Linked DNA regions of Homo sapiens. The protein of the gene in region 1 purifies or fractionates together with the protein of each later gene. This does not show direct contact. Each region holds a gene or a part of one and is shown on either strand. Other genes may lie near its edges.

Region 1 (3,243 bases):
CACCCTCACAATCAGGCTGTGGCCCAGAGGCTGTACCAGTAGAACCACCGCGGCCAGGGCTGCTTGACCACTTGCCCTGAGAGCCTGTGCGGTCCCTCTGCCAGGAACCTGCCCAGGCCCACCTCCTCCAGGGGGACCAAGGGGACTCCAGCCCCTCCCATGCCTCCCGGCTGTGCTCAGTACTATGGGCTGGGGAGCTGGGGGCACAGTGGGCGTGGCCCACCACGGGGTAGACACCTGCAGAAAACCAAGGCCCATCCTTCACACCCAAGTCCACCCTTCGGCATGGAAATTCTGTTTTGTTGAGACAGAGTTTCGCTCTTGTTGCCCAGGCTAGAGTGCAATGGCGCGATCTCGGCTCACCGCAACCTCCGCCTCCTGGGTTCAGGCTCACCGCAACCTCCGCCTCCTGGGTTCAAGCGATTCTCCTGCCTCAGTCTCCTGAGTAGCTGGAATTACAGGCTCCTGCCACCACGCCTGGCTAATTTTGTACTTTTAGCAGAGGCGGGGTTTCTCCATGTGGTCAGGCTGGTCTCGAACTCCTGACCTCAGGTGATCCGCCTGCCTCGGCCTCCCAAAGTGCTGGGATTACAGGCGTGAGCCACCGTGCCTGGCCCAGCGTGGAAATGCTGCCTTTAACTTGGGAGTCCACCCATCCAGCCAGGAACGTGCCCAGGTGAAGTCCTTGAGGCTGCTGAGGTGGGAGGGCCCCAGGCTCAACCCTGAGTGGCCCATGTGCCAGGCTGACAGGTGCAGAGACTTCCGGTGCTTCTCCCAGTGGAGCGGGCCCTGGCCTCTGGAGGAGGCTGTGGAGGCTGGTGCTCAGCTGGTGGGGGTGGGGGTCTGTGACACCCTCCTCCTTCCCCAAGACCTCAGCTGGGGTCAGGAGCCCATCGTAGCGTCCCTGGGGAAGTGGATGGGCTTCATACCAACATCTAGTCCTGGGAAGGCAACCCCACCCCAGCTGGCAGCCCTCGCGGGGCAAGAGTTGGTGCCTCGAGTTTGGTGGGTCAGGTCCCAAAGCGCAGGCTCTAGTGCCTGTTCCCCAGGAGAGCTGGAGCCACCCCTTCTCCAGCCCAGGACACAGCTTCTCCCTCATTCCTAAGCCACCCTCTGAGAACAGAGCTGTGAGTCACCCCCACCCCCAGCGCCCGGTCTTAATCCTACAGGAAGTAGAGGCACCTGTCAGCAGCAGCTGTCACCCGGCCTGCCTCACACAGCTGGGGGCCGCAGGCTGGGGGCATGGGGCCGAGACGCTGCAGAGAGAGCCCCAAGAGCCCAGATTCTGGCCTGGCTTAGGAGCTGAGGCGCATTCGGTCCAACCCTCCCCTAATCCCATGTTGGAAAACAAGGAGGAATCCATCCTGCTTGCACACTCCCAGGGACGGGGCCCTCACTCTCTCCCATCTCCTGAGTCACACCACAGGCCTGAGGGCCTGGTCCCACTCACCAGTATGTGGCGACCCGGCGCAGATCAGAGGGGGCCAAGTGGTAGCCACACTCCTCCCAAGCCTCCTTGCAAGCCACTTCCTCCAGCGAGAGCCCAGGCTGGTCCACGAGGCCGGCACACAGCTCAACTGTCACCCCCGCTGAGCCGGGCAGGGCTGGCTGTAGCTCCCGAGGCCCGTCCTGGTCTACAGCTGCTAGGGACCCTGGGAAGCGGCGCTCCACCTCACCCGCATACACAGCTGCGTGGGAAGAAGCCAGACTGTGCTCACAGCCACGTGGTGGCCACCTCCAGGTCACCCACACAGCCAAGCCCCCTCCCAGGGCCTCAGCTTCCCCTGGAGCCCCCTCCCACATCTGTATTCAGACCCTCAGGACCACAGGGACCTGAAGGTGACCCTGCAGATCCCCTTCCCACCCCAGCTGGCCTCACCTGGCCGGAACTGCTTCACCAACACCAGGCTCCTCCGAGAAGAGTTGAATAAGAGAACGGTCACGCTGTGTACGGGGGGAGGGGCTCAGCACAGAAGCACTCCACTGGCCCTCGTGGGGCCCCACCTCCCATCTTTCTGTTCCCAGCGTGGCCATCCCACCTCCTTGCCAGCAGCCCAGGGAGGTCAGGCCCCTTGCTCAGATAGGATGGCTGAGGCCCAGGCGGGACCAGAGCTTTCCAGGGTCACAGTCTGGCCAGGACCCAGACCTGCTGTATTCCAGCTGGCAGGATGGGAGGCGGGGGGCAGGGAAGGACACACGGGCAGCTGAGTAGGTCAGGGTGCTCGCAGCTGAGGCCGGGTGACTGACAGGACGTTTGGCCCTCACTGAGCAGCTGCCCACCAGCCACACTCCTCGAGCCACGTCGCCATCCAGCCCAGACCCTGGATGCTAGGGGCAAAGGCTCCAGGACAGCCTCTCCCTGCCCTGAGAGGGCCTGCCCACCATCATGGTCCCGGTGGCCTGAGCAAAGACCTGACTCAGCCCCCAGGCCTCAGGCTGACCCCTCAGGGATAGGAAACCCAGAGGCCGGGCAGAGAGAAGGGACTTTTGGAGCCCACGCAGGGAACAGCAACGTCAGGGAGGAGAGGGCACCTTCGCCCTGGGCCCAGTGTCCCCGTAGACATCAGTCTGGGGCTTCCCCAGTGGCCAGGCTGGGCCAGGCTCTCACCTGTCATGCGTCTTCATGAAGTCCCAGGACTTCTGGGCACCATTCTAGAAGGGGCAGGTCAGCGGTTAGAATGTCCCAGGATGGGCGGAGGTGCTCGGGGAACCGAGGAGGCCACAGACCCATTGCACCCACTCCTAACCAGGGAGATCGGCTCGTGGCCTGGGCCCACGGGAGCCAGGAACTGCAGCTCCCGTGGGCAGAGGAGCAAGCAGCCTGGGAGGGGCAGGGAGGTCAAGGACAGCCTAATACCCTACGAGTGAGGCAGAAGACCAGGGCAAAGGGCAGGGAAGGTGTCCAGGCACCTCATGAAACACTGCCCAGCACAGACCGAGCACAAGGGGCTGCAGAGAGACGTACACCGTCACCAAGTATAGGAAGGCTCATGGAGGCTCGGGGAGGGCAGGCGTGACTCCCTCACAGCAGGGCAGGAGGGCCCTGCAGGCAGAGGAGAGGTCAGGTTTTCCTGCTGATGCTTCCTTGGGCCACTGAACAGGTGGAGACGGGAGGGCAGGAGGGGCCGGCACCAGGAGTGGATGGGGAAGGGTGGCAGGAGGGGCTGGCACCAGGAGCAGATGAGGAAGGGTGGCGCCCCAGCCAGGTAGGAGATCGCACTGCAGGACTCGGTGACTGTCATG
Region 2 (3,806 bases), on another chromosome or scaffold:
GAGGGGCAGAGGGTTAGTGTTCACCTTTCATGGAAGGGATTAGTTCTTAACCTCTTTTGGCCATGGATCCATTGAAAATTGGATGAAAGCTTTGAGCTCTCTCCTTAGGAAGAAGTTTTTATGCTTGTTTATACATAGACTCCAGTTTCAGAACTTCTGCTAAAATGGAATGTAGGTAGAGTAAGAGAAAACAATAAAGTTCTGTATTTATATAACAGTTTACTGTTGAAAATGAACTTTAAAATACATTATTTGATCCTTTAACAACCTTAAGAAATTGGCTGTATGGATTTCTTTATTCTTAACTTAGATTAAATAATTGTCTAGGAAATTAAAAGGCTTATTCAGGGTCGCATCCCTAATAAGAAGCTTATCTCTTGAGTGGGCAAATACTGTGCTTACTGAATGTCTGCTATGTATTAGGCCCTGTGGCAGGCGGTGGGTAAGGATTGCCCTTGAAAATGGTAGAGTTGAGTAGAGCAGTCAGATTTGTAAATATTTAGTGTGAACCTACACATATTTAGTCTTCATTCAGAGCTCTGTTTAACTGTGCCATGCTGGTTTTTAGGGAATATGGAGGAAGAGTATTTCATTAAAACTAAAATATTAATATATACTAACTTTCAGGTTTAAAAAATAACCTGATCTTTTGACTTATATAGAAGTTGAGTATCATCACAAAACATGATTTGTAGGGAATGGGCATGGTTTGTAGGAAGAGAAAGTTCAAGTTGAATGCCAAAAATAATTCATATCCTTTATAGTGTAAAACATTGGAGAGGGCAGCTAAGTGAAAATTGTGACTGTTTAAATTGTTTTTTGGGCTTTTTACAATTTTTTTTTTCTAAAGGTAGACATTATTGACATAAATGTAAAGGTTAATTTTGTGATTTTTGTTTTTAAGCATTTTTTTGAGATAACTGATGACCAATTCGACTTCCATACATACTGCATGAGAAAGATGACCCTTCGTGCCTATGTTGACCTTTTGAGATTAGAAGATATACTCAGAAGACATGCCTTTTATTTCAAGGCTGCTAGATCAGCGATTGAAATATACTTGAAATTGTATGATAATCCCTTAACCAATGAAAGCAAACAACAAGAAATAAACTCAGGTAACTGAATAGGAACTTAAAAGATTTTAAAAGGACACTAAATTTCAGAATGCCATTAGCGTAAACAATACCTAGAAAAATATTAATATATTGTCTGTTGGAGTTGAAGACAAACATTAGATAACTCATATGCCAAAAAACAAAAATGTTGCAGAGAGAGTTAAAAAAAGTGGGATGATATTCTGTAGCTGATGGTTCTAAATTACTTTAATGGAACAACTTAGAATTTTTTTTATTTTTGTCTTCAGAAAGACCAATTTAAGAACTGGGTATGGTGGTTCACGCCTGTAATCACAGCATTTTGGGAGGCCAAGGCAGGCAGATCATTTGAGGCCAGGAGTTCAAGACCAGTCTGGGCAACATAGCATGACCCCTGTCGCTACAAAAATTTTAAAAAGACGAGTTTAGGAAACATAGAAATGTCTGTGGACTAGTTTTTTTCTTTCTTTTTTAAAAAATTGTAACTGAAAATAGCTTTGAGCTCCTTAGGAAAAAATATATAATCTTAAAATTTCTAGTTCCTACTTTATTAAAAATAAGAATATCAGTGAGAATATCTGTACAGTTTTTTATTCACTAGAATGTTAATATCTAGGAATATTTGAGAAATAGTTAGCATGAAATGAGCCTAGGTAACTATCTCAGATATTCCTAGGTAGCTGTTCATTTCTAATATTTATATAGTATTTAGAGATCACAGGTGTTTATATGTATTATCTCACTTATTCTTGAAAGACTTGATACTGAGAAGGACAAAGTGATTTGCCTGGAGTCATATATTGTGTAGGAGGCAGAACTGGGCTACTATTGGTCAATTTTAGTTAATGCAACATTTACTGGCTGTCCTTTGTGTGCCCAATTTTGTTCTAGTCACTGGGGATACACTTTCTAAAAGCTTTTATATGGGTTGCCTCTGCATCCCTCCTTGCCCAGACAAAAAACAGAAAAAAAAAGTATACAGCTGGCCCTCCATTTTTGTGGGTTCCACATGGGTGGAACAAATCATAAATATGTTTTTTTAAATTGCATCTGTACTGAACATGTCCAGACTTTTTTTCTTGTCATTATTAGTATTTCCTGAACAATGCAGTGTAACAACTATTTACATAGCATTTACATTATTTTAGGCATACCTATAGACCATAATATAATTTATGAAAAAGTGAAGTCATTATATGCAACTTAAAGCAAAAGGAAGGTGAAAGATTTAAAGCTGATCTAATTAAAAGTATACAGGAGGATGTACATAGGTTGTATGGAAATACTGTGTCATTTTATATCACAGGCTTGAGTATCAGTGGACTTTGTGGGGGTGGGGGTCATGAACCAATCCCCCACTGATACCAAGGGACAACCATACTAACAGTATGTATTACAGAAGAATATGAAGAAAATGCAAACATTGGCTCAGAATTTTGTTCATTTGGATATTTATAGAAAACTTGTCAGCCAAAGAATTGAAGAAAATGCTTAGCAAGCAGAGAAGAGCTCAGAAAAAGGCTAAACTAGAAGAAGAAAGAAAGCATGCAGAAAGAGAACGTCAACAGAAAAATCAAAAGAAAAAAAGAGATGAAGAAGAAGAAGAAGCCAGTGGCCTTAAGGAAGAACTTATACCTGAAAAATTAGAAAGGGTGAGATGGGTTTTACTATCTTTGTTATTTGGTAAAATTTATGCTATTTGGTTCCGTTCTGACAGTTAACATGATTTATTTAAATCTGTAAGAAGCCATTTGAAATATTTCAAGGTTTTTATAATAGCCGTCAATTATCTTTGAGTGACAGTATACAAATTTTGGCTAATGCAAGTTATACATAGAATTGCAATTGTGGTAGGCAGAGTAATGGCCCTGCAAAGGTGTCTGTGTTCTGGTCCCCCCAGCCTGTGAATATGTAACCTTACATGGCAAGGGAGAATTAAGGTGGGAGATGGAATTTATGGTTGTAATGAATTGACCTCAAGATAGATTAGCCTGGATTGTCCATGTGGTCCTAATATCGTCAAAAGGGGCCTTAAAAGTTGAGGATGCCAGCAGCAGAGGTCAGAATGATGCAATGTGAGGAGGACTCAACCTGCTGTTGCTGGCTTTGAAGATGGAAGGAGGGTGCCCCAAGCTAAGGAGTGTGGGCAGTCTAGAGAGGCTGAAAAAGGCATTGAACGGATTCCCCCTTCGAATCTCCAAAGGAAATGCAGTCCTGCTGACACCTTGATTGTAAGCCCAGTGAGACTGTGTTGGGCTTTTAACCTATAAGAACTATAACATAATAAGTGTGTTGTTTTAAGTCAATAAATATTTGGTAATTTGTTACAGCAGCAATACAATTGTCCATTACATATGGAATCATTTTACCTTATATGTCTTACTAGAAATGTTGTAGCTACAAAGAGATAGCACCTCCAGGATTTTCTCAAGTGTTAATAGTTGTTTTGGGATCAGATTTAAGGAAATATTTAGTTTTCTGGTTTATTCACTGTAAGTCTAGTACAGTTGGCCTTTGAACAACATAGGTTTGAATTTTGAGGGTCCAGCAAAGGATGGTTTGATAATTTTAGAAAGATGTTTGGGTTAAAAAATGTCCAGATAACAGAAGAATTAACTTCTCACCAAGAGCTGGCAGAGAAGTTCCAGATGCCATTGAGAAAATCATTGAGGAGAAGAGGTATCTGCCTGAACAGGTTTTTAATGTAGA

The links.
Region 2: the proteins of NUDT14 (region 1) and NAA16 fractionate together in Homo sapiens (co-fractionation; one large-scale study listed by BioGRID). This does not show direct contact.

The regions. Positions count from the first base shown.
Region 1 is NC_000014.9:105,175,084-105,178,326, forward strand, and holds part of NUDT14 (uridine diphosphate glucose pyrophosphatase NUDT14), read right to left. Parts: intron 2,653-3,243; coding exon 2,609-2,652; intron 1,945-2,608; coding exon 1,880-1,944; intron 1,689-1,879; coding exon 1,451-1,688; intron 905-1,450; coding exon of another isoform or gene 883-904; exon of another isoform or gene 405-882; intron 1-404. UniProt on the Homo sapiens protein: Hydrolyzes UDP-glucose to glucose 1-phosphate and UMP and ADP-ribose to ribose 5-phosphate and AMP. The physiological substrate is probably UDP-glucose. Poor activity on other substrates such as ADP-glucose, CDP-glucose, GDP-glucose and GDP-mannose.
Region 2 is NC_000013.11:41,366,535-41,370,340, forward strand, and holds part of NAA16 (N-alpha-acetyltransferase 16, NatA auxiliary subunit), read left to right. Parts: intron 1-904; coding exon 905-1,118; intron 1,119-2,555; coding exon 2,556-2,749; intron 2,750-3,806. UniProt on the Homo sapiens protein: Auxillary subunit of the N-terminal acetyltransferase A (NatA) complex which displays alpha (N-terminal) acetyltransferase activity.